7 linked regions of the Homo sapiens genome follow. The protein of the gene in region 1 interacts with the protein of each later gene in a biochemical or structural test. Each region holds a gene or a part of one and is shown in the gene's direction. Other genes may lie near its edges.

The links.
Region 2: the proteins of KCNJ18 (region 1) and MAST2 interact in a test that uses a peptide from one of them, tested with the Homo sapiens proteins (one large-scale study listed by IntAct).
Region 3: the proteins of KCNJ18 (region 1) and MPP7 interact in a test that uses a peptide from one of them, tested with the Homo sapiens proteins (one large-scale study listed by IntAct).
Region 4: the proteins of KCNJ18 (region 1) and SIPA1L2 interact in a test that uses a peptide from one of them, tested with the Homo sapiens proteins (one large-scale study listed by IntAct).
Region 5: the proteins of KCNJ18 (region 1) and APBA3 interact in a test that uses a peptide from one of them, tested with the Homo sapiens proteins (one large-scale study listed by IntAct).
Region 6: the proteins of KCNJ18 (region 1) and APBA2 interact in a test that uses a peptide from one of them, tested with the Homo sapiens proteins (one large-scale study listed by IntAct).
Region 7: the proteins of KCNJ18 (region 1) and TAMALIN interact in a test that uses a peptide from one of them, tested with the Homo sapiens proteins (one large-scale study listed by IntAct).

Annotation. Positions count from the first base shown.
Region 1 is NC_000017.11:21,691,233-21,695,322, forward strand, and holds the start of KCNJ18 (inward rectifier potassium channel 18), read left to right. Parts: upstream 1-1,290; 5' UTR 1,291-1,482; intron 1,483-4,090. UniProt on the Homo sapiens protein: Inward rectifier potassium channels are characterized by a greater tendency to allow potassium to flow into the cell rather than out of it.
Region 2 is NC_000001.11:45,806,612-45,810,111, forward strand, and holds part of MAST2 (microtubule-associated serine/threonine-protein kinase 2), read left to right. Parts: intron 1-3,500. UniProt on the Homo sapiens protein: Appears to link the dystrophin/utrophin network with microtubule filaments via the syntrophins. Phosphorylation of DMD or UTRN may modulate their affinities for associated proteins. Functions in a multi-protein complex in spermatid maturation.
Region 3 is NC_000010.11:28,055,065-28,058,564, reverse strand, and holds part of MPP7 (MAGUK p55 subfamily member 7), read left to right. Parts: coding exon 1-70; intron 71-715; exon of another isoform or gene 716-919; intron 920-1,941; coding exon 1,942-2,085; intron 2,086-3,500. UniProt on the Homo sapiens protein: Acts as an important adapter that promotes epithelial cell polarity and tight junction formation via its interaction with DLG1. Involved in the assembly of protein complexes at sites of cell-cell contact.
Region 4 is NC_000001.11:232,623,634-232,627,133, reverse strand, and holds part of SIPA1L2 (signal-induced proliferation-associated 1-like protein 2), read left to right. Parts: intron 1-3,500.
Region 5 is NC_000019.10:3,755,193-3,758,692, reverse strand, and holds part of APBA3 (amyloid-beta A4 precursor protein-binding family A member 3), read left to right. Parts: intron 1-3,500. UniProt on the Homo sapiens protein: May modulate processing of the amyloid-beta precursor protein (APP) and hence formation of APP-beta. May enhance the activity of HIF1A in macrophages by inhibiting the activity of HIF1AN.
Region 6 is NC_000015.10:29,112,974-29,115,894, forward strand, and holds part of APBA2 (amyloid-beta A4 precursor protein-binding family A member 2), read left to right. Parts: intron 1-902; coding exon 903-1,043; intron 1,044-2,921. UniProt on the Homo sapiens protein: Putative function in synaptic vesicle exocytosis by binding to STXBP1, an essential component of the synaptic vesicle exocytotic machinery. May modulate processing of the amyloid-beta precursor protein (APP) and hence formation of APP-beta.
Region 7 is NC_000012.12:52,005,481-52,009,745, forward strand, and holds the start of TAMALIN (protein TAMALIN), read left to right. Parts: upstream 1-1,465; 5' UTR 1,466-1,539; coding exon 1,540-1,785; exon of another isoform or gene 1,786-2,175; intron 2,176-2,341; exon of another isoform or gene 2,342-3,280; intron 3,281-3,709; coding exon 3,710-3,759; intron 3,760-4,265. UniProt on the Homo sapiens protein: Plays a role in intracellular trafficking and contributes to the macromolecular organization of group 1 metabotropic glutamate receptors (mGluRs) at synapses.

The DNA of each region.
Region 1 (4,090 bases):
GTTATGTGGCTAGCCCAAGGCCACACAAGAAGGGATGGAGACAGGATTTGAATTCATGCCTTGTTGCCCCAGAACTCTTATAGTTTCAAGCTCTCTTATGGCCCTTGGGCTCCCCATTGCCTTTGGGATCAAGTCTAGGCTCATTAATATGACATCTGAGGCCCCCTGGGGTGATGCCTCAGCCTCTGTGCCTGCACACGCTGAGCTTCCCTGATATGATGGTGTCAAGGCTGTGCCCATCTCGTCACACCTTCCCCACAAACCCCGAATAGTTTAGATCCTGGAATGGAGGGCTGGCAGGGCTTCTGTGGAGTAGCTGGGCCAGCCCCCTGGTTTGCACACAGTCAGGGTGGGTCTTGCCCAAGGCCCAGTGCCTGGAGAGTGAAGCTGGAATCTGCACCAAGACTGCAGGACTCTGGTGCTCTTAGCTGTGTCACTGTGCTATGGTTAGTCTCAGGCGGGGTTGTCACCCCTGCTGCTCGCTGCTGCCTCCCCACTGGCAGATACTCCTCTAGGAAGCACCCCTCCTGCCACTGGGTTAGACACCTCCCCTGGGCTCCAGAGGGCCCAGCGACTTATGACTGCTGACTTCTCACCGTCTGCCCTGTGAGGCAGGGTGCCCCATGAAGGCAGGCGCCCAATGCTTCCTCTTCAAGTCCTCGGTGCCCAGTGAGGACTTGAAGAGGGAGACCCAGAGAGGGACAGAGCCCTGCTCCAGGTCACACAGCAAGTTGGGGCAGAGCCAGGAGTCCTAGAAGGGCCCCAAGACCCTCCAGGTCTCCCCTGTTCGTGGGACTTAATGGAGCCCAGGGATGGGGCAGTGTCTGTGATGGCCACCCCAGCAGAGGGCACTACTGCAGGGCCTCTGTTCTCTGCTTCTCCCAGGGGCCTGGGGCCAAGGACACCCTCTGTCCCTCCTGCCCCCACCCTCTGTGAAGAAGGATGTTCTCAAGATAAAAATACCGTCAGAAACATTCCCTGGTGTTTGGTGTGACTGTCGTCCACCCTGTGGGGCCAGAATCTTCTGACCTGGCCTCACCTCAGGGCTTAAGGGTGGACATTTGCCTTTTCTAGCCGCTTGGTGCAGCCTCTTTCTGGGGTCCATATGTCCAGCCCCCATCTTTACGCCACAGAATGTGAGGGGTCAGTGTCACTCAAGGTTCCTGCAGCTTCCACTTTCTGAGCATCCTCTGTGGGCTGGGCGCATCCCGAGCATGGAACAGCGAGGCAGATCCTGCCCTTGTGCGTTTTGTGGCTCCTTGCGGGCCAGGGGGGCTTCTGAGGACATCCAGCAGGCCACAGGGAGGCTTGGGCACAGTCAGCTTTCCGTCCTGTTGGGAAGCCTGTTTCTGCTTTCAGTGCCTACGTGGTGTCAGGAACGCCGGTCACAGTGAACGCCTGCAGGACCCACACTGCTGCATCGTCTCTGTGGGACAGATACTGAAGCCAGGGCTTGGCTTACCCTCGTGACAGTCTCCCGAGGTGTGTGGGGTCTCCTCATTTTGCAGATGGGGAGTTTCAGGCCCCAGTCAGCTGGGGGGCTGCCAGGCCTCTCCAGGGAGGGTGACGGCTGCCACCTCCCAGAGACCCGCTGGGGCGAGGCCCAGTGCCCGGACTGCAGCTTCGTCACCACCTTCAATTTCATGGCACACCCTCTGAGAGGCCTGGCAGGCGACACCAGCCTCATTTTTCAGGGGAAGCTGAGCCTCAGGAAGGGGAAGTGCCTTGCCCTGTTCCGTGGGGGATTTCAGCCCCATCCTCAGCCCAGGCCCTGCCCTCCCCTGCGGGACGCTGTGGGCCAGCCCGGCCTGTTGGCCCTCAGTCGTGGTCATGGGGAAGCACTGCCCCTGCAGCCCACCTCCCCATCCAGGATTGTGACCATAACCCCGGGAAGCATTTGTGGGACTTGGCGGGGTGAGCTCACATGGCGGCTGCTGTGGCCCCTGCAGGTGGCGGGAGCTCTGGCCAGGGCATCCGGAAGGCTGGCTCCTGTTTGCAGGGTGCTGCCCTGCCCTGTGACTTCAGGAAATTCGCTTCTCTGCTCTACGTCTCAGTACCCCTGTGTAGAGTAGAGCTAATTTTGCCTTCCTCCTAGATAAAAACAAATCCAGCTGGATTTGTGGTCTGGGGAATGCCCCTTTCAGGTAGTAGGGAGTGAGGGACGAGGTTGGGAGAGCCTGGTGCAAGCCAGGTGACCAGCAGGATGTGGATAGATGCTGCTGCCCACACTTCTGGCCCCCACCCCTGCTTGGCTCCCCATGGCCCTGTGGCAATATCCGACCTTCGCTGCTCAGAGTTCCAGCTCCAGGTGACTGTGCAGGTGACTTAGCTTCTCTCAGCCTCAGTTTTCCTATCTGTCCAGAGGGGAGAATTGTCCCTCCTCCAAGGCAGGGCTGTGAGCATCGGGATGACTGCAGCCAGCTGCCAAGCATGCAGGGCCAAGCACAGTGTTGGCTCACTCGGGGAAGGGGGTGGACCCAAGTCCCTGCCGTGGAGGTCCCCAGCTGTTTGATGTTGGCTTGTGACAGAACCTCTCTGAAACTCTGCAGCTCATCCACCTGTCCATCCATCCACCCGTCCATCCATCCACCCATCCATCTCTGAACCTCTGTGTCCCCATCAGTTTTGAGGATGGAATGGCTGAGAGAGGCAAAGTGTAGGCCTGTGGCTTCTGCTCCCAGAATGATGAGGGATGGGGAAGAAGGGGCTGGGGATTGGGGGACTTGGAGGGTGAAGAGGGACTGAAGGGCCACTAGAGACCAGGCAGGCCATCCCATTTCAGAACAAGCTGAGAGAGGGGAAGTGACTCACTCAAGGTCACACAGCTTATGAGGGGCAGAGCTGGGATTTGAATCTAGGTCTGTGTGCCTGTAAACCACTGTCACCTGTCCCAGGAGGCTGATGATGTGGGGGTGACTCACCAACAGTTGCCTTAATTCCAGCCAGAAAAACCAGTGTGACAAACCAGCCTCGGCTGTAACCTTGGAAAGGGCAGGCCCCATGAACTCCATGGCTGGGAGGTGCGGAGGTGAGAAGCATGTCAGGTGGCTCACCGTGGAGATCCTCAGAGCCCCTTCCCACCAACCTCTTCTCTGATTCTCACGGCACACTGGATAGGAAGGCAGGGGGATCCCTTTGACAGGTGGGGAAATTGCATCTTTGGGATTGCAGGGACCATGTAGGATGTATGTGTACCCAAGGCAAATCTCTGGCAAATTACTGATGTGTGCCCATCCATGTAGTTAGCCATGTGCCCACCTGCTCATCCATCTAGTCATCTATCCTACTTGCCCAAACACCCTATCCATCCATCTACCCACTCATCACCCACCCTCACACTCATCCACCCATCCATCTATCCATCTACCCACCCATCCATCCACCCATCCACCCATCCATCTATCCATCTACCCACCCATCCACCCACCCATCCATTCACCCATCTGTCCATCCATCCACCCTTCCATCCCTCTATCCATTCATTTCTTTACCCACCCATACACTCATCCACCTGTCCATCTATCCACCCATCCACTCATCCACTCATTCACTCCACCCATCCATCACCCAACATTCCATCCATCCATCCATCCATGCACCCGTCACCCATTCATCCATTAATCTGTTCATCCACCCACTCAACCATATACCCACCCATCCACCCAGCCATCCCTCTATCCATTCACTTCTTCACTCACCCATCCACTCATTCACTCACCCATCCATCCACCCAATCATCTGCCCATCCATCCATCCCATTCGTCTATCCATCCATCCACCCACCCATTACCCATCCATCCACCCATCCATCCATCCATCCACCCATTCACCCATCTATCCCTCCATTCATTCATCTACCCATCCGCTCAGTCACCCACCCATCTACCCTTCTGTTCATCCATCCATCCAATCATCTACTTTCACACTTATCCATCCATCTATCCAACCATCCATCCATCCATCCATTCATCCATCCATCCATCCATCCATCTTTCCATCCTATTATCCATTCATCCACTCATCCATTCACCCATTCATCCACTCATCCATCCTTCCTCCATACAGCCATCCACCCTCACACCCAACCACT
Region 2 (3,500 bases), on another chromosome or scaffold:
CTCTCGCCCAGGCTGGAGTGCAGCGGCACATTCTCAGCTCACTGCAACCTCTGCCTCCCGGATTCAAGCGATTCTCTTGCCTCAGCCTCCCGAGTAGCTGGGATTACAGGCATGCACCACCATGCCTGGCTAATTCTCTATTTTTAGTGGAGATGGGGTTTCACCATGTTGGCCAGGCTAGTCACGAGCTCCTAACCTCAGATGATCTGCCCGCCTTGGCCTCCCAAAGTGCTGGGATTACAGGCGTGAACTACCACGGCCTAATTTTTTATTTTTTGTAGAGGTGGTATCTTACCATGTTGCTCAGGCTAGCCTCGAACTCCTGGGCTCAAGTGATTCTCCCACCTTGACCTCCCAAAGTGCTGGGATTATGGGCATGAGTGCCCAGTTTGTTTTTCAAATTGAAATATAATTCATGGCTACTTGTGAAAAGTTTTCATTGTGAAATAGTTACAGAGAGAAATATGTAAAAGTCCTGGGAACCTTTAAATTACTAAATCTGATAGTCTTTTCCTCATCTTGTCTGACCTCTGTGAACTATTTGTCACTGTTGACTGTGTGTTCCTTGTTGACATTTTTTTCTTTTTTAATATTATAATATCCATTCTGTTACTGCTTCTCTAACTGCTCTCTTGTGTGTCTTTGTCTTGTGTTTTCTCTTCCTGTTCCTGAAATGTTCCTTGAGGACATGTCCTCTGTCCTTAGCTTGATCCTTTATTGTGCTCTATTTAGCAGGCTCATTCTGTTTGTAGATGTTGAGGATGTAGAACAAGGGTCTGCAGTCCTCTTTATTTATGGCATTGTGTCACAGAACATCCTTGTAAAGTGAGCTGAGTCTCTTTAGGTGTGACCTCTTTCCTTAGCTCTACATTTCCATTTTTGTGCTTAACATTTCCACCGTAGACTCATCATTTGTGTTCTTAACATTTGTGATTTTTTTTTTTTTTTGAGACAGGGTCTCACTTTGTTGCCCAGGCTGGAGTGCAGTGGTGGGACCTCAGCTCACTGCAACCTTCGCCTCCCAGGCTCAAGTGATTCTCCAGCTTCAGCCTCCCCAGTAGCTGGGATTGCAGGCGTCCGCCACCACGCCTGGCTAATTTTTGTATTTTTAGTAGAGACGGGGTTTCACCATGTTGGCCAGGCTGATCTCGAACTCCTGACCTCAGGTGATCCACCCACCTCGGCCTCCCAAAGTGCTGGGATTACAGGTGTGAGCCACTGTGCCCGGCCTAACATTTGTGAGTTTTATAATTTGATAGTGACCTTGAAAGTTCATAATTTGTAATAATTTATGATTTTAAAAAGGCCAAAATTTTCATTGTATGTGTCGAGACTGGTTGAATTCTATTTATTTGGGTAGTAAGAGCCCAGCTGATCAGCAAGCATCTACATCTCACACGTAACTTTTTTTTCCCTTTCTCATGACATGGAACAGTGCTTGTTACAGTTTTTATTATACTAGTATTTAAGAATACGTTCTAATCAGGATGTAGGACTTGGATCTCCAGAAGGTCAGTGGTTTACTGTATCATGAAAATAGAATAATTTCTGTGTTGAAATGTGCTTCTCTCTGTATCTTTCCTTTTTGTCATCCAACATGAAATTATATCCATGGCTTTTTTTGTTTGTTTTATTTTGAGATGGAGTCTTGCTCTGTCGCCCAGGCTGGAGTGCAGTGGCGCGATCTCGGCTTATTGTAACCTCTGCCTCCCAGGTTCAAGCGTTTCTCCTGTCTCAGCCTCCTGAGTAGCGCATGCCTGGCTAATTTTTTGTATTTAGTAGAGATGGGGTTTCACTGTGTTGCCCAGGCTGGTCTCGAACTCCTGAGCTCAGGCAATCCACCCGCCTTGGCCTCCCAAAGTATTAGGATTACAGGCGTGAGCCACCGTGCCTGGCCCACATCTGTAGTCTTTTACTTCTTCTCCTTTGACTCCCTTAGCCAGTCTGGCATTAGGTTCTCTCGATTCTGCCTTCATGAAATCTTTCAAACCATTATTCCCATTGTCACTACCTTAATTTCATATTTATAAACTTTAGTCTTGGTTGTTGCAGTATCTTAACTGTATTTACTCAGTCTTCAGTCTCTTAACCTCTAATATATTTCACGTTCTATTAACAAAAGATTGGAACTCATTGCCTCCCTGGCTAATGGTAAGTGCTTTATAAATACTCGTTAAATGTTCATTTCATTTCTCCTTATTCATATACCTTCATTAGCTTCTTATTACCCATAGAATTAAGCCTGAAGACCTTGGCATTCAAGATCTACTTGATACTTAGCACTTTTTGTTAGAAGAGTCAGTTAGTTGCCACTTCTCTTGGTTCCTTAGGACCGTCTGCTTTTCTCGATCATGGCATACAATATTAAAATTATCTTGTTTCTCTCATTAGTAAGTTCTTTGAGAGTCAGACTGTTCCATTTACTTCTGTATACCTAGGGCTTAGTATAGTACTTGAAACATAGTTATTTGTGTATTTATTAGAAACATAGATATTTGCTCAATGTCCTAATTGATTGTAAGTCAGTCAAATGAATTCCTCTGAGGCTGTCTTAATCATCATGGTATCTTCAGCCTCTAGTATTTTAACTGGTATGTAATAGACATTCAGTAAGTAATTGTTTATTGTTAGGCACTTTGATATACTTTAATTAGTCATCAGTTTGAGAAGCTCTTTATTCTCTGCTTCCGCATATTAAAATTCTACTCAGTTTTCCAGGCCTAACTCAAATGCCACAGAAACTTCTGTGAGGCCAGGTGTGGTGGCTCATACTTGTAATCCCAGCACTTTGGGAGGTTGAGCAGGCGGGTTGCTTGAGCTCAGGAGTTTGAGACCAGACTGAGCAACATGGTGAAACCCCATCTCTACAAAAAATACAAAAATTAGTCGGGGTTGGTGGTGCGCGCCTGTGGGCCCAGCTACTTGGGAGGCTGAGGTGGGACCCCTGGAAGTTGAGGCTGCAGTGAGCCAAGGTTGTACCACTGCACTCCAGTCTGGGTGACAGAATGAGACCGTGTCTCGTAAAGAAAGCAAAAAACAAACAAACAAAAAACAAAAACAAAACCACACACCCAAAAAGAAACTCTTCTGCAAAGTTGTTTTTCCACATGGGATCCTAGGAGGATCCTTAATTGGGCTTCAGGAAATCTGTGAATGTCCTGAAATTCCAGTTCTCAAAATTCTGTGGTTTAAAAGTGAAAGCTTAGGTTCCAAGAGATCAAATGCAAAAATGACTGGAAAGCACATAATAAGTAGGTGCTTAATAAGTAGTCTTATCTCATTTTGTTTCTGTAACATATTGTTTGATCCATTCCTGGTCATATAAAGTAGATGCTGAATAAATATTTGCTGAATGAAAGGATGAATCAGTGTTTTAGCACTTTCAACTTTCTGTGTTCATTTGTATTTCATTTTTGCTTTTAAGTTGCATGTTATTGAAGGTAAGAACTATGTCATCATTTTGTCTAACAATGCAGAGCTAAAGGCTTTGCTCACAATAG
Region 3 (3,500 bases), on another chromosome or scaffold:
CACAAGTATAGACTCAGTTCGGTCTGTCCTTGCTAAAAACAAAGTTTGTTTGTTGGATGTTCAGCCTCATGTAAGTAAACAATGAGCTATTCAATACCCTTCTGACCCATGTCATCTACAGCACCTCATGTGAGCATTTCAGTATGAAATAATATGAAGTCAACTCACTTTTGGCATATATGTGGCTTTTCTGAGATGGCAAAAGCATTTAAATATAATTGGAGACATCTTTGGTGGAGAAAAAGAAAAGCCCATAATATTATTAGAAAGAGAAGTGGAGGAAGCTCCAAGACCTGTGTTTGTAACTCTTATTTATATTCAGTTTTTGTCAAGTAAAGCAACTCTTAGATGTTTCTACATATTCTGTATTTTTAAAAAATACATCACATTGTTACATGCATAATGCATTCTTATGTGTTATGTATTAGTAACAGTGTCTATAATTTTTAACGATGGACATTTTGGTTCCAAGTCTTTGACTTTGGTTCTGTATATATCCTAGCAAATAACCCCCCACTAGAACTGAAGGGCATTTTGCAGGAAATGTACTGAATGAAAGCCCCATTGCAACTGCCATGTCTGCACCTGTCATCCTGGAAACTCCATTATGAACATTCTGAACTGAGAACTTCAGTGGATGAGGCCATTCAATTCCCTATCAAACCATACATCTTCCAGCAGATCCCCAGCCCACAGCATTTTCCTCATCCCCCAGGGACCATGGTTTCTCCTTCCACTGATGGCTGTACCCTGGGGTGCAAAACCTCCAAATGCTAGAATGACCTGCGGAAGCCCTTTGGACCTCTAAAGGAAGATGAATCTGGAGTAAAAGTGTTTCAAGAATCAGGAAGGCTGCCTCCTGACTTGGGCACTGTGTTAGTCCCTTGTTGCACTGCTCTGAAGAAATACCTGAAACTGGGTAATTTACTAAAAAAAAAAAAAAAAAAAAAAAAAAAAAAGAGGTTTAATTGGCTCACTGCTCTGCAGACTGTACAGGAAGCGTGATGCTGGCATCTGCTCAGCTCTGGGGAGGCCTCAGGAAACTTGCAATCATGGCGGAAAGCAAAGGAGGAGGGTTGAGCACTTCACATGGCCAGAGCAGGAGGAAGAGAGAGAGAGGAGCGAGGTGCCACACACTTTTAAACAACAGGGTCTCACGAGAACTGACTATTGTGATGACAGCACCAAGGGGGATGGTGTTAAACCCCGGGAAAATGCCCCTATGATCCAGTCACCTCCCACAGGCTGCACCTACAGCAGTGGGGATTACATTACAACATGAGATTTGGGTGTGGACACAGATCCAAACCATATCAGGCACCAACAGTGAATGGGACAGTCCTGCTTATGCAGAGCCTCTCTGCTGGTGTCCCAGGTCCAGTTGCTGTCAGACTCCCACAGTGTAGTATCAGCTCATGAATAATAACTTTCAGCTCTCACCCTCTGTAGATAGGTCCCCAGAAGTATAGAGTATAGAACATCAAAGATTTGATGAAGGAATCTAGACAGGCATCATGGAGAGCAGGAGGCTGCCCTTGTAGGGTACTCTGAAGGATAGGGTGAAAGAGGAGAACTCCTGCCTGAAATCAGAAAGGGGCTTAAAAGGGATGGTTGGAAGACATTTGTGGACAGAAAGTTATTTAACTCATCACACCTTTGGAATATTTGATCTAAAAACCAGTTTTGTGATATTTTTAGTCACTTCTGTTCAATGTTAATTATGATGTATTTCAGAACATTTTAAAATGCCAAGTTACATTCCCCAGCTTCTTTTCAGAAGTGTTTGTTACATTTAATTGTCAACAGTTAATTGAATAATAATATATTGAAATGACTACTGACCTTAAAGAATAATTTTGAGGAATTTTCTCCTAGAAAGAAAATTCAGTAATTCATGATGCTATGGAGAAATGTGAGAAAACTTTCTTTTCTTCCTTGTAGACAGTGAAGCATTTAAGGACACTAGAATTTAAGCCCTATGTGATATTTATAAAGCCTCCATCAATAGAGCGTTTGAGAGAAACAAGAAAAAATGCAAAGATTATTTCAAGCAGAGATGACCAAGGTGCTGCAAAACCCTTCACAGTAAGTATAATGATGCTTGGGGGCCAGGTGTGGTGGCCCACACCTGTAATCCCAGCACTTTGGGAGGCCGAAGCAGGAGGATCATTTGAGTCCAGGAGTTCAAGACCAGCCTGGCCAAGGTGGTGAAACCCCATCTCTACAAAAAATATGGAAATTAGCCAGGCATGATGGTTGGACACCTGTAGTCCCAGCTACTTGGGAGGCGGAGGTGGGAAGATCATAAGACCCCAGGAGACTGAGAGTGTAGTGAGCTGAGATCACACTACTACACTCCAGCCTGGTAGGCAGAGGTGGGAAGATCACAAGACCCCAGGAGACTGAGAGTGCAGTGAGCTGAGATCACACCACTACACTCCAGCCTGGGCGACAGAGTGAGACCCTGTCTCAACAACAACCACAAAAAGCTTGGAGATAAGATATAAGCAGTAGATAAGATGTAAGATACAGTTGTATATATGAAAACATATATACAGCTGCATGTACTTGGGAAGAGTATAATAGATACAAAAATCAGTGAAAGAATTGTATTTAGGTACATACCTTTTGAACAGTTACACTTCTTGTGCTTTGGTGAATGGATCTTCATATTCAATTGACTCAAAACTATTTTGTATACTATTATGTGAACATTTCATACTATTGTAGGCTGAACATTTGTATAAAATCTAGACCAATTAATTTTCAGAGCAGCCTTATTTTTAAAGCTAAAAATACCATCAGTAACTGTTACTCATTAAGAGTCCAAATGAAAAATTTAATAATGTGCCTTGCTTGTCTCCTTGTGTCAACAATTATATTTAGCACAGCAAAAGAAAATCACTATTTTGGGTATAGGATAAGTAGACCAATATTATTCAGCAATAATATTTGTATTTTCTATGAGTGTTATTGGAAATGATGATTGTGGTATATTCATGACTATTATGGGTTCTGGCAAGACCTTTTATTGTTTTTCTTCTTAATCTTAATATATTCTACCTTTGGACCAAAAATCAAAAGCAAAGAAATTAAATGTGAAGAGCTTATTTTTTTCTTGCCCCTCTTAATTAGCTCATCATTAACTTTAGTTTATATTAATTTATGAACTGTTCATTGTGGTTACAAAATACAGATCACATTTCTGATTCCCAGTATATTTGATAAATACCTTTTTTTACATGCCAACAGTACATATCCGTTCTGAGTAGGTACTGTCATACAATGTTAGTTACTCAGGCTCTTGATCAACACTAAAATTAAATTTTCTGTTATTGTGAAATCTTATGTGACAATGAAATGCAGACTCAAATTATTTCAGCATGTTGCAACATAAAGATTTATTGTACTATTTAGACATTTTAAAGGTTTCTCAACGAAGATAAGAAAGGATCACATATTCTTAGGATTTGGCTCTCTTACATTTATGTTATATAGCC
Region 4 (3,500 bases), on another chromosome or scaffold:
TTACAAATCCTTTTAAAGACACACTGAATTTGAAGAAAATTTAGACTAGGGTATTGTTAATTGAAAAGCTGCTTTTTTTTTTCTTTCTGTTTTGAACTTCAATGAAATACAAAGTACAGTCCTAGAGAATAGTGAACCATGTTCTAGGTTTTCTACTTCTGTTAATGTGCCTAATTCATTTGCAGAGTGAGAGTAGAAAAAGCTTTAGGCACAGACAGGAACCTTGAGCTTCCTGCCTCTACCACCTGTCACAAATGAATTTGGATGAAACTATTTTCATGATCCCTTTCAGCACCAAAATTTGGGGTTTCTTTAAGGTTTAAGACGAACGCATTAGAGTAATGAAAATGCCTGTCTGACTGGGATGTTTATATTTTTCATGATTATGTCATTTCTTTGCCTTGGCCTATAGTAAGTTTGTATGTGAATGCTTTGCATGAGGGTCATAGCTACTTGGTTTACCTTGAAATCAATGATTCAGAAATTGCTTTTTGTGTTCCAGTTGCATGTAGCTGTGACTCCTTTTAAAAGTGTGGTAACAATGTGGTAGGAATTTAAAAGCTTCCCAACTTTAGACATAGATTATTTTGATCCTTTCTGAACTGGATTCATAAACTTTGGTTCCAAAGAACAGCAGCTGTAGAAGGGAGCCAGATCTTGACTCACTGTTGAGGTTCTGCTTCTTGAGAGATTTCATATTTAGTGCAACCCAATTCCTTGGTTCGTTCTTCTCCCCCAGTACTAGATAGCCAAGTTGGGTGGTAGGAAGGAAGAAAATATGCAGCAAGTCGAGTCTAGTTGTCATGCTCCTTTGGGCCAGAAAGGACCTTAAAGATTGTCTCGTCATGTTGTTCCTATACCTTTTGTTTTCGTCTACCTGTAAAATGAAAAAAAAAAAAAAAAGCAAATATTAGGGATTGTCAGATATGTCAGCATTTAATGTTGCTACATAAGTGTGTTTAAAATTGACAACAGCAGTTACTACCTATTGTCAATGCATTTCGTCAAAATCCTTTTGATGTACCAAAAAAGAGAAAAGGTGGGGAAAGGGGGAAGAATATGTATGCTGTCAGACTTAAAGGAGAGTTCTTCCTATCCAGAGAGGAGCTGTGTTAAAATTACCCCACTCGTGGATTTATATCTATCCCCACACAGACACTTTTTTCTTTTGCATGGGTCAATGAAAAATTCACTAAGGACCGGGGTTTAGAAATCACTGAGTAGCTCAACTAACCCTTCTTTGATATTTGGATCCTTTTATATAATCTCTGTAAGTGGTCTTCCGGTAATACCTGAACATTGCAAGTAACGGGTGGTGATTTCCACCTTTTAATGGTTTTGAGTACTAGAAAGTTTTTTGGCCTATAGAATTGAAATCTGATTCTGCTTGTTTATTCAAATTCTACTGCCTTGGTGGCCTACAGAACAAATCCTTCAGTCTCTGTCAGAGTTGGGCTCTTGGTGTAACGTGACCCGTGAACATGACCTGTGTAGAGTACAGCAGGAGTGTCTTGTCATAGGTTGCATGTTGCTTGCACTGATGTAGTCCAAGTTTGCATTTACTTTTCTGGTGGCCAGACTCAACGAGTTTCCTTTTCGCTAAAACCTGCCGAGCCGTTAATCACATGCTGCCATTGAACCTCGTCTTTCCATCTTGCGCTGATGTCATTGCAAAACCTAACATTTATTGCGCTGTGGTTTTGCTTTATTTTAGCTGATTCTTTCCATCATGCTTTTTAGAATTTGATTATATTATTTGGCACCTTTACCTGTCCTCCCAAAGAAATGCTGTCTGTACATTATTAGATCAGACTCTTTTATATCTTTACTTAAGCCGGTGATGAAATTGTTAAACTGGCTGAACAACACGAAGTGTGTCTCTGGAAGCTTCCCTCGAGGCTTACAAGGAGTCACACTCTCGGTTATAGTTAACTACTAATGCTCTTCATATCTTATAACTAGCCCATATAGCTCCACCTTTCCACATGGATATCCTGAAAGAGTGTGTCAAACCTCCTTTGCTGGTTCTACTGACCAAGTTATGCTGAGTAATAATGAGTTCATTTTCAGTGTGTCCCTAGTAACGAGCACTCTCTTCTGCATATGATTAAGAAAATGTGTTAAATGACTGACTGGATTGAGACACTAGGGTCACACTGTGATCTGTGACCTCCGGAGGCCTTAGGAACTGCAGTGCTTCTAGGAAAAATCAGAATATTGTTGGACTTTCTTCAGCTTATTTTTTGGTTTGGTATTCTCTTGTGTTGAATTGCTTTCAGATAGTGGGGAAGAACACCACAGTCTCTTCCGGTTTTGTTTTAATTGGTTGATATACTTCTCTTCCTATTTTACTAATAAACATTTAGCCAAAAGGGGTGTCTTGAACTCTGCCCATTAGATTACTCCATATTTTTCACTTCTACATATTTGCTTAATCTTCTGAGAAATATCCCCATTTAGTTGAGTTCCTCAAGAAATCAGAACAGTCCGAAGTAAGCTATCTGGTAGTTTATTCAAACTCTTAAGTAAAAATATCTAGGTAAAGAGCCAGTGTTAAAAATTGTTATTGTGGAAAGTAAGAACTCCTGGGTGAATAAAAGATTATGTCTGCTGAGATGAACTATTGTGTGGAGTTTTAAAAGAAAGTTCTGGTTAATGCTTAAGACATAGTGTCCTGTGAAGTCAGCATAACTACTTTCACTGTCTTCTGGAGGTGGTTTTGATAACACATTTGGTTCCTTGTTGAACAGTGGGTATTCACATTGTTCAGGAATAGCTTTGGGATACTGTCCTCTCCGTATTGAAGTTTCTAATAAGTAATTTTAGGAATTATAGTTTTGATTCTTTGTACAGGGCAAATGCTACCTGTTTCAGGTGTTTAAATGGCCTAATGCAAGAAACAGTGGTTTCTTTTTAGCAGGTTCTCAAGGTTCTCAAACTTTTTTCAACGTGCATCCCATCTATACACAATTGTCTAAGTGTTCATGTATGTATGCGTATACATGTATACATATCTGCATGCACGTTTGTGTGTGTGTATATGTATAATATATCTGTATGTATAAACATATACTTTACTGTGCTAAGATATTATGGACATAAAACAAATGTACATTTTAAGAAGATTAATATTAAAAATAAATAGATGTAGAAGTATTTTCTCTGCATCTCAAGGGCATTTGTATCTTTGAAATGTGTGGCCCCTGTGTAGAGACCACTGTTGTACTATCACTGGTTAGAGTTTATAGCAGTTGAGAAATGGAATTTCTAGGGAGCCTGTAGGGTCTTGTGAGGCAAGCGGAAGACAAACTCCACTCTTGATGGGCCTTATATTTACTGTGTATTTATTCTTTTTCCCGAAGACATTTCTGACTTTGGCCTGTTTTCTTCCAGAATTGCTTGTGGGTCTTGGTTTGGGGTTTCATTTATTGAGGGGTAGGAGGTTAATGTAATGGCGATGCTATTCTCCTTAGAAAGTTTCTAATTGAACTCAGCTGTTT
Region 5 (3,500 bases), on another chromosome or scaffold:
TTGGCCAGGCTGGTGTTGAACTCCTGACCTTGTGATCCGCCCGCCTTGGCCTCCTAAAGTGCTAGGATTACAAGCGTGAGCCACCACGCCTGGCCAAAGAATACTATTTCTTGACATGTGAAAATGATATGCTAGGCTGGATATGGTGGCTCACACGTGTAATCCCAGCTCTTTGGGAGGCTGAGGCAGGAGGATCGCTTGAGCCGGGAGTTGGAGACCAGCCTGGGCAACGTAGCAAGACCCCATCTCTACAAAAAATGTTTAAAGTTAGCCAGGTGTGGCGGTGCATGCCTGTAGTCCCAGCTACTCAGGAGGTTGAGGCGGGAGAAGTTCTTGAGCCCAGGAGGTCGAGACTGCGGTGAGCTGAGATCACCCCACGCCACTGCACTACAGCCTAGGCAACAGAGCGAGACTCTGTCTCAAAAATAAAAAAATGCAATTCAAATTTCAGTGTGCATAAGCTGGGCGCGGTGGCTCACGCCTATAATCCCAGCACTTTGGGAGGCCAAGGTGGGCAGATCACTAGGTCAGGAGTTCGAGACCAGCCTGGCCAACATTGGTGAAACCCCGTCTCTACTAAACATACAAAAATTAGCCGGGCATGGTAGTGCACGCCTGTAATCCCAGCTACTCAGGAGGCTGAGGCAGGAGAATCACATGAACCCGGGAGGCGGAGGTTGCGGTGAGCTGAGATCACGCCATTGCACTCCAGCCTGGGCAATAGAGTGAGACTCTGTCTCTAAAAAAAGAAAAACAAATTTCAGTGTACATAAATAAAGTTTTATTGGTACACATCATGCTTGGTTATTCATGTGTTGTCCATGGCTGCTCTGATGTTCGAATGGCAGAGGTGAGTAGCTGCAGCAGATACCTTGTGACCTACAAGGCTGAAAATATTTACTCTTTGGCCCTTTACAGAAAATGTTTGCCAAGCCCTGCCCTAAAAGCATGGGAAGAACAATTTCTGGCCCTCTGGAATGTTCTAGACTTTTTTTTTCAGTGGTGCAATCTCAGCTCACTTCAACCTCTGCCGCCCGGATTCAAGTGATTCTCCTGCTTCAGCCTCCTGAGTAGCTGAGATTACAAGCGTCCGCCACCGTGCCCAGCTAATTTTTATATTTTTAGTAGAGACGGCGTTTCACCGTCTTGGTCAGGCTGGTCTCAAACTCCTGACCTTGTGATCCACCCGCCTCGGCCTCCCAAAATGCTGGGATTACAGGTGTGAGCCACCGCGGCCAGCCTCTGTTCTACACTTCGCTAAGGATATAGGTCAGATAGTAAGTTCTGGCCGGGAAGGGTGGCTCACATCTGTAATCCCAACACTTTGAAAGGCTGATGTGGGAGGATCGCTTGAGCCCAGGAGTTCGAGACCAGCCTGGGCCACACAGCAAAACCCTGTCTCCACAAAAATAAAATCCCCCCCCAAAATTAGCCAGGCACGTGGCATGGGTCTATAATCCCAGCTACTTGGGAGGCTGAGGTGGGAGGATCACTTGAGGCTGCAGTGAGCTAAGATTGTGCCACTGCACTCCAGCCTGGGTGACAGTGAGACCATGTCTCAAAAAAAAGAAAAAAAAAAACAGTTCTGTGGTTGCAGAGAGAAAAACTGGTTTGAACCTATAGCTCTAAGAAGGTTCTAGAATCGAGCAGAGCTGTGACACCTAGGGAGTTCCAGGGCTTGGCATTTTGTCTGTTTCTAGGGTAAAGGAATCTGGGCTGATGAGAATGCTCAGAATTGGTGAACAGAGGCATCTGGTTCTACTCAGACTGGAGAATTCTAGAACCATGGAGGGAATAGTTATCTAGTGTTCTATAACCCTGGGCAGAGCTGTCCAATTATAGTGTAATCAGAAAGTTCTAGATGGAACTACAATAGAAATACAACGTGAGCCATATGTGATTTAAAATTTTGTAGTTATCCACGTTAAAAAATTAAAAACAGGTGAAATAACTTTTTTTTTTTTTAAACTGAGACGGAGTCTCGCTCTGTCGCCCAGGCTGCAGTGCAGTGGCACGATCTCAGCTCACCGCAACCTCCGCCTCCCAGCTTCAAGCGATTCTCTCGCCTCAGCCTCCTGAGTAACTGGAACTATAGGCATACGCCACCATACCTGGCTAAGAAATTAACTTTAATAACATTTTAATTAAGCTAACATATTTAAAATATTATTTCAACATACAATCAATATTTTTAATTTACTTTTTTATTTTTTTGAGACACAGTCTCACCTTGTTGCCCAGGCTGGAGTGCAATGGCGCAATCTTGGCTCACTGCAACCTCTGCCTCCTGGGTTCAAGTGATTCTCCTTCCTTAGCCTCCCGAGTAGCTGGGATTACAGGCGCCTGCCACCATGCCCAGCTAATTTTGGTATTTTTAGTAGAGACGGGGTTTCACCATGTTGGCCAGGCTGGTCTCAAACTCCTGACCTCAGGTGATCCGCCCGCCTCTGCCTCCCAAAGTGCTGGGATTACAGGCGTGAACCACCATGCCTGACCTTAAATTACTTTTTTTCATACCAAATCTTCAATATCTAGTGTGTATTTTCTATTTACATCTCTATTCAGTCGAGCCACATTTCAAGTCTGTGATAGATACATGTGCCTGGTGGCTACCACAGTGAATGACGTATCTCTCTAGAACCCCAGAGTGGAGCTCTTGTTCCAGAATGCTTAGATCCTGAAGGATAGTGGGCAGAACCGACTGTGGTGTAGGGTGAATTTCACTTAGTGGTGTCCAGAACGGGGCCCTACACCCGTGGTTCTAAACCAAAGAGCCGTAGTTACTGGTTAGAATGTTCTAGGGCCACTGGCAGAGCTGTCTGGCTCTGGGTAGCTCAGGGAATTCTAGAACCATGAGAGTAAAGCTTTTTTTTTTTTTTCCTTTTTGTTTTTGGAGATGGAATCTTGCTCTGTCACCCAGGCTGGTGTGCAGTGGTGCGATCTCTCTCGGCTCACTGCAACCTCCACCTCCTGGGTTCAAGTGATTCTCCCGCCTCAGCTTTCAAGTAGCTGGGATTATAGGCACGCGCCACCACGCCCAGCTAATTTTGTATTTTTAGTAGAGACGGGGTTTCGCCATGTTGGCCAGGCAGGTCTCGAACTCCTGACCTCAGGTGATCCACCCCCCCCCCCCGGCCTCCTAAAGTGCTGGGGTTACAGACGTGAGCCACCGCACCCAGCCAGGAGTAAAGCTTTATGTAGTTCTGGGCTGGGTTGGGAGTATTCTGGAACTGTCTAGAATTCTCCTGGAACAGAATTGTTTGTTCCTTGACTGGTCAGGTAATTCTTAGAATCCCTGGTGTAGCCAAAGGTGTGAACTACTGAAGGAGATTCTAGAACCACAGGAAGAGCTGCCTGACGCGATTGTGATTAAGATGTTCTGGAATCACGGAGCAGAGAAGTCTGATTCTAGAGTGATAATAAGATTCTAAAACTCCTGACAGAATTGCTATGAGACCTGTCAGAGAGTTCTGGAATCAAGGGTCAGAACCAGCTGGGGT
Region 6 (2,921 bases), on another chromosome or scaffold:
TGTTTCATGCAGCATAGTGTCCCCGAGGTCTGTCCGTGTTGTAGCACACTTCAGACTCTCCCTCCTCTCCAGGGCTGAGTACTGTTTCCCTGCAGGCCTAGAGCACATTCTGTTTCTCCGCTAGTCCGTGCTGTCACCCTCGGCTGTTGTGAACACTGCTGCTGTGAACACGGGTGTGCACGGCGCCTGTTTTCCATTCTGTCCAGTCTCGTGGTCACAGGCGCTCCCAGGCCCTCCTGTCCATCTGTTTGGCGTCACTTTTAGGCTGGAATGGAAGCCCCCACCGCTGCACTCCAGCCTGGGTGACAGAATGAGACCCTGTCTCCAACAAAACCAGAACCAGTATATTTGGCACAAAATGCCCTTACGTCACTTGGCGGGGGGGGGATGTAGGAATAAAGTGACTCTTCCCTGTCGATGTAGACCATTTGGGCATCCGGCAAACAGAGCCTTCCCTTGACAGAACAGATGCCCCACCTTTCTGGTGGCCAGGGGACAGGCTGCCTCTCCTTTCCCGCCCGCCCATCAGCTAAGTGCCTGTCTTCCAGGATGGTAACCAGGCTGTGCCGTAGGAGGCCAGGTGGCAGTGGCCTTGGGCTGTGTCACCAGTCTCTAGCCTGACCACAAAGGGAGCGGCCCTGGGGGAGGTGCAGCTGGGGGACAGGTTCCACCGTGGGAGTCAGAAAACTTGGTGGTTCCCCACACACCATGGCATTAACTCTCTTGTTTTAAAGAAACATACTGCATATCATAAGGATCTCTGTCTGTGAGTCAGCGAATTGCACGTGCACGTATTCATCATGTGGCGCTTTTCCCTCTGCATGTCCCATCTTTGGGGACGTGGTGGAGCGCCTGTCGGGTGTGGCGGGAACACGTGTGCTGACCTGGCCATGTCTGCTTAGATCTGCAGCCTCATGAGAGGGGGCATTGCTGAGCGAGGGGGCGTCCGTGTGGGCCACCGCATCATCGAGATCAACGGGCAGAGCGTGGTGGCCACAGCCCACGAGAAGATAGTCCAAGCTCTGTCCAACTCGGTCGGAGAGGTAAGGAGGGACTTTGAGTGTGCCTCTGCATGCCGGTTCCCACGTGCTCCCGCCTGCCCTCCATGAGCCTCCCCCGCTCCAGAGGACACAGGGCATCTGAAGGTCAGCCAGGCTGTGTCTCCCATCGGGGCTGCTGTGACAAGGGTGAATGGAGCGGCAGGTGATGCGGAGCCATCCCGGTCTGGCTCTAACTGAGCAACCGGGAGGGCACAGGCTGCTGGGGGTGCTCCCTGGACACTACTTTTGGGACTGGACCTGTATGTCCAGTTCAGAAGCTCTGCAGGGCACACAGCTCTGGCCACCCTGGCAGGCTTGCCTCTCTGCCCTTGCTGGCCATCCCCTCCCACAGCCAGGCTGCTTGCCCTGTCCCACTTCACTGGCTGAACCCCCCACAGTCCAGTTCTTTCTGGCATCGCTTCCACGGCAGTGTGAGGATGGTGTGGGGGAGGTGCAGGTTTTCCTCCAGAGCTCACAAGGAGGCAGGATCATTGGGAGGGGGGATGGTGCTGGGGAGGTGGCACATACACCGGGGGAGGCCTGGCCAGTGCGCAGCGGGTGTGCGTGTGTGTGTGTGTGTAGTGTGAGCGAGTGTGGGTGTGTGCATGTGGATGTGTGAGAGCATGGGTGTGTGTGGGATGTGATGTATGAGTGTGGGTAAGTGTGGGTAGGTGTGGGAAATGAGTGTGTGCGTGCACGTGGGTGTATAGGGGTGCATGAGTGGATGGGTGTGGGTGTGTGGCTGTGTGAATGTACCTGAGTGTGCGTGTGGAGGAGTGTGTGTGTGTGGGTGAGTGTATGCGGATGTACGTGTGTGTGTGAGAGCATGGGGTGTGTAGGAGTGCGAGTGTGGGTGTGTGCAGGGGTGTGTGGCTGTGGGTGTGTGTGAGCATGGGGTGTCAAGCATGAGTGTGTATGTGTGCACGGCTGTGGCTGTGGGTCTGTGAGTGGGTGTGAGGCATGGGGTGTGAGGAGAGTGTGAGTGGGTGTGTCTGTGTGTGTGTAGGGGTGTGTGAAGGGGTGTTCAGCACAAAGGGGCTGCAGGCTCTCTGGGAAGCGTGGTGGCCGCACGAGGCGGGAGGCTGAGAGCTGAGGAGCCCGGCCTACAGAGGGGCCCGCTGGGGACCGGGCAGGGAATTTGGGTCTGGGGACAGCAGCAGCAGGCCGGGCCGTCTGTGGTGCTCCCCCTGGTGGCTCTGTGAGGCTGAGTGCGTGGCGACCATCCTTGCAGCCTGTGGGTGGGCGGGTGGGTGGAGGGGTCTCTAGTTCCTGTTCTTCGGATGAGGTCTCCAGGAGCCACATCGGGACACTGGTATTTTGTGCACTGCAGGGTCGGCTGGGAGCTGGGAGGCCTGTTTTCCCTGGACTGGTGGGGGCAGGGGTCTGGCTCAGGAGGAGGAGGGGCCAGGCGGACACCAGCCTCCCTTTGATGGCTTCAAAGAAAGGAAAAGCCAGTGTTCCCAAGTAGATGCTTTGAAGCGGCCGCCCCCACGGCCAGCAGCCCCACACCTGTGAGGAAATCCACCCGTGGAGGAGCGGGCGGGAGAACGGGGAAGAGGCAGGAGGCGGCCGGGGCGTTGGAATCCTTTCAGCCCTGCCGAGGTTATGGTGCCTGTTTCCAGCAGCTCTGAGCCCACGCGGAACATGAGTCGCTGATAAACAAGGCTTGCAGTTGCGAGGGGCCTCGGGGTGGGTTTCTGGTTGAGGAACGCCGGGGAATGGCTGATGGAGGAAGCCCCTGCCGGGAGCAGGAGCAGCGGAAACCTACATCGGCCACACAGATCCCGGCGGGGGAGGGAGGGCAACGCTCAGAAGCAGAGCTGCGCGATGTGCCTTTCTGGGCTGCTCAGCCCAGGGCCCGAGACCTGCTTGCCTGAGGAG
Region 7 (4,265 bases), on another chromosome or scaffold:
GGCCAAGAGCCTCTGTAACCCCAGTGCCCAGCCAGTACCTGGCACACAGCAGGGCTTAAATGTTGGACAACATCACAGAGTGGTTAGATTGCAGGCTCTGGAACCAGGCTGCCTGGCTTTGAATCTCAGCTCTGCCGCTGAGTGACTTAGGGCAAATTACTTATCTTCTCTGGGCCTCAGTTTCCTCATCTGTAAGGGAGGATAATGGTGCTTATTTCGTAGGGTTGTTATGAAGACCAAGTGAGTTAATGCATGTATGTAAAAGGACACACAGAACAAACAGTGTGCATAGCACATGCTAAGTGCTCAATAAATGTTAACTGTGAAGGCATAACAGATTTGGGAAGACTGGGGGAGGAGGGAGGGGACAGACAAGGGCACCGCATTGCCGCCTCTGCTTCTTGGCCGATGGGTGTTGGGACATGGAGTCCCCAGCCTGTGCTGCTGACGCCCTGTGGTGGCTAGCCGCTCTTTAGACACCAGACGCTGCCTTCCACTTCCTCCTCTCACTTCTTATTCGGGCACCACTGACGACAGAGACTTCGGCTGGGCCATTCCCGCCTCTCCTACCGCCTGGCAGCCATGGTAACAGCCTGGGGGATGGTCCCTAAGATGGGGTCAGAGAACGGCTGAGCATGGCCATCCCCCCAGCCCTGAACTCCCACTCAGCCTGGGCTCATCCCAACCTCCTGAGTCAAGTCCACAGTAAGCGTCTGTCTCCTGGGAAGGGGGATCTGACCCCGGCATCAGGAGCTGAGGAAAGGTGTTGCCAGCAGGGATCACTCAAGCCCCTTGGAGGGGACAGGCCAGAACTAAGCCTACTGCTTTCAGGGTTTCCACCTCTTCCCTTCTTCCTAGACGTGCGAACAGGGGGCAGCCTCTTTCAGCTCTTCTGGGGCAGCTGCGTCAAGGGAAAATCCTGGGCCCTCTCCCTCCCTGGGGGCTTCTGCGCAGTGAGTTCAGGGAGTCTCCTCCCTCCTCCATCGGGCCTCCACCCCTACTCCTGCGCAGCCCCGCTGCCGCTCTCCCTGCCCTGGAGTCTCCTGCAGCCCCTTGGATCTCCGTGACTCTCCCTACCTCCCCGACTCCCCAGGCTTCTTACAGTGACCTCTTACCGTGCCCCACTCCATGAATCGCCAGAGCTATTCGTCCCTAAATTTCAAACCTTGCGCAATGTCCCTTCACAGACCCCTCCAGGTATCACGCAGCCCCGAGCCCCGAGCCCCGCCCCGGGGGCCTCATCCCGCCCCTTCGCGTCCGCGGCTCGTTTTCCCCCACTGAGCGCCCAGCTCCCGCAGTTTCCCCGGCCGTCGAGCGCCGTGGGCGGGGCTCCAGGGCGGCGGCGCCTCGCGGGGAGGGTCCTCCGTGCTGGGGGCGAGGCCACCCGAGGCAGCTCCCCGCCCGCCCCCAACCCCGCCCCGCTCTCGGAGCCTATAAAGGGAGGCGACCCGCGGCCCGCCCGGCTGGCATCCCCCAGCCGCCGCCAGCCCCGCCGAGGGGAGCCAGCGCCGTCTCTGAGGGGCGTCCGGCGCCGGAGCCATGACCCTCCGCCGACTCAGGAAGCTGCAGCAGAAGGAGGAGGCGGCGGCCACCCCGGACCCCGCCGCCCGGACTCCCGACTCGGAAGTCGCGCCCGCCGCTCCGGTCCCGACCCCGGGACCCCCTGCCGCAGCCGCCACCCCTGGGCCCCCAGCGGACGAGCTGTACGCGGCGCTGGAGGACTATCACCCTGCCGAGCTGTACCGCGCGCTCGCCGTGTCCGGGGGCACCCTGCCCCGCCGAAAGGTGCGTCCCCCGCCCGCCTTCAGGATCTGCTCAGCCCCTCTCCGACTCCCTACAGGGCCTGCTGACTCCGCAGTGCCCTCTCCTCGGCGTCCGCGGAGTCCCCCACCTTCTTCCCCGGCCCGCTGGGTGCCTCGACTCCCCGCGTTCCCCGCTGCTGCGAAGGCCGTGGCCCTCGCCTGCACACCGCGCCCAGGCTCGGTGGCTCTTAACTCCGCGCCCCATGCACGCCCCCTCTCTCCCTCCTTGACTCCTCCCAGCACCCCCCTTCTCCTACCCGCTCCATCTGGCTTTCTGCCCCCCATGCCCCGCCTCCCCGTGGCCAGGTGTCCTGGGTCCCCAGGAGCCCCTCGCCCGAGGGACAGAGACAGCCCCAGGCAAGTTGAAGGTCCGAGAGCCCCCGGTGGGAGAAGCGGGCCGGTGGCTGCGCCGCGTGCGTTCTCACTCTGAGGAAGTGCGTGGGGAGCCGCTGACTCCGGATAGCACACCCTTCCGAGGGGACTCCCCGATTCCTGGGCTGGGGGCCTGCCGCCTGGCCCCACGTCTGACGTACGGGGCGCGAGGGCCACTGCTCCCTGGACTTCTGTCGGAACCGGACGCAGTGGGAGGGGTCGCAGGGCGCCCGCGGGGCAGGAAGGATGCGGGCCGCGCCCACCTCTGAGTCCCCTCTGCCAGCCTCTTCCTCTGGCCCCAGGAGACCTGAGGCTCAGAACCTACACAACACCAGGTTAAGAAGAGGGGCCTGGTGGCCTTTCCTCACCCAGCCGCCCTCCTTCGCCCCGGCCCCCAGCTAGCCCCCACACAATGAACAGCTTGTTGAGAATTTGCATTTTATGAAAATCATGTTGAAAGACAAAGGGGTCTCTCTGTGCTGCCCAGTCCTTCCTCCCTGGCCGTTTGGGAACTGTCCCCACCCCTGAGGCCAATCTGGTTCTGAACCTTCTCTTCCTTGCCTTGGGCAGCTTTGGGGGAGGGTTAGCAAAGGCACAGAACAGAAAGGCCCTGGGCTGTGCAGGCTCCAAAGAAAAGGGCTGCTCTGGGACTGGACCTCCTCCCAGGACCAAAAAGTTAGGGAGGGTGAGAGACTACTTTAGTTTATCAAGGACCCTGAAGAGACAGGAACCTTCATCTCTCATCCTTCCTCCACACCCCCCACCACCACCCCTAAAGAACTCCCAGTCTCGGTCCTTTAGTGAGACTTGCTGACAAGTTTGACATCTAAGATGTTTTGTCCCAGAAAGCACAAAATATATGGCAATGGAGAGAGAGACCCAGGTATAGCTGGGCACAGCTGGTCACCTGCAGCTGGGATCCACAACTGGTCCTTGAAACGGCCTGTACCTTAGGAGACCTGGCACCTCTGACCCCACATTCTGGCTGGGATTGCCAGCCCTTCGGGACAGGGTCCCTGACCCCAGCCCTCCCAAGCCACTGTCTGTAGCTGAGAAATTAGATGGAGAGACCCAACTGGCAGAAGGTCCTCGGAGCACCTTGATAGGTGAGCCCAGGGGACACCTATCCTCTGAATCCCACTGGGGAAGAGCCCCTGCCTCAGCTTTGGGAGTCTGGATGGCCTGAGCCTCTACAGACATGGGCCCTAGGGGTGGAGACCATTTTAGAATAATGATCTCCCCACCTGCTGCCAGTGTGGAAACCAGCAAGGGCTTAGAGGTTCATGGATCTGGAACCCAGGAGGATGGTTGTGTCCCTGCAGTCCCAGGTATGAAGGTAAGGCCTGTAGAGAAAGTTGAGGAGTGGTGCCAGTAGTGGCACTTGGCAAATAGTTCCACCAGCACCAAAACAGGTGTGGATGTGGAGCTGGGAAGGGGCAGACAGGAAGTGGGTCGCTGTGTCCAGGGTAACCTCTCAGTGTCTGCTCAAGGACAGTCCCGCCTTACCTGCTCCTTCTGACCATCTTACTGCCCAGGGCTCAGGATTCCGCTGGAAGAATCTCAGCCAGAGTCCTGAACAGCAGCGGTGAGTCACCAACACCCAGCCCCTGCCATGGTCCAAAGGGGTGAGGTGCTGGGTTGGGGGGTGCCAGGACAGCATCTCAGCCTAGCGAGGGTAGTCATTCTCCTAGCCTTTAAACATGGCTCCCCCGCTGGGAGTGAGGGCAGGTGGGGGTGAGGGCTGTGTGAAGGGGGTGGCAGAGAAAGGAGGTAGGGACTTTTGAGTCATTAGGTGCTCTTCAACACACCCCCAGTCCCTGCCAGTTACCCCTCCCTGGGGAGATCTGGATGAACGGATGTGGGAGTTGGGAGGGGGTGTAGGCAAAGTCTATGGGGAACGTCCTAACCCAGGCCTCCTGGGCTCCCCTGAGCCCTCCTAGCCTTGGCAAACCCCACGGGCCCAGACCTTAGCCAGGCTGTGTCCAGCTGCTTGGGGCTGGCTGCCCCTGCCTCCAGAATGTCAGTCCTCTTCTGGTCCCAGCCTGTGGCAGCCCTCTTAGGAGGGATCTGAGCGTGGGCAGAAGTAGGTGC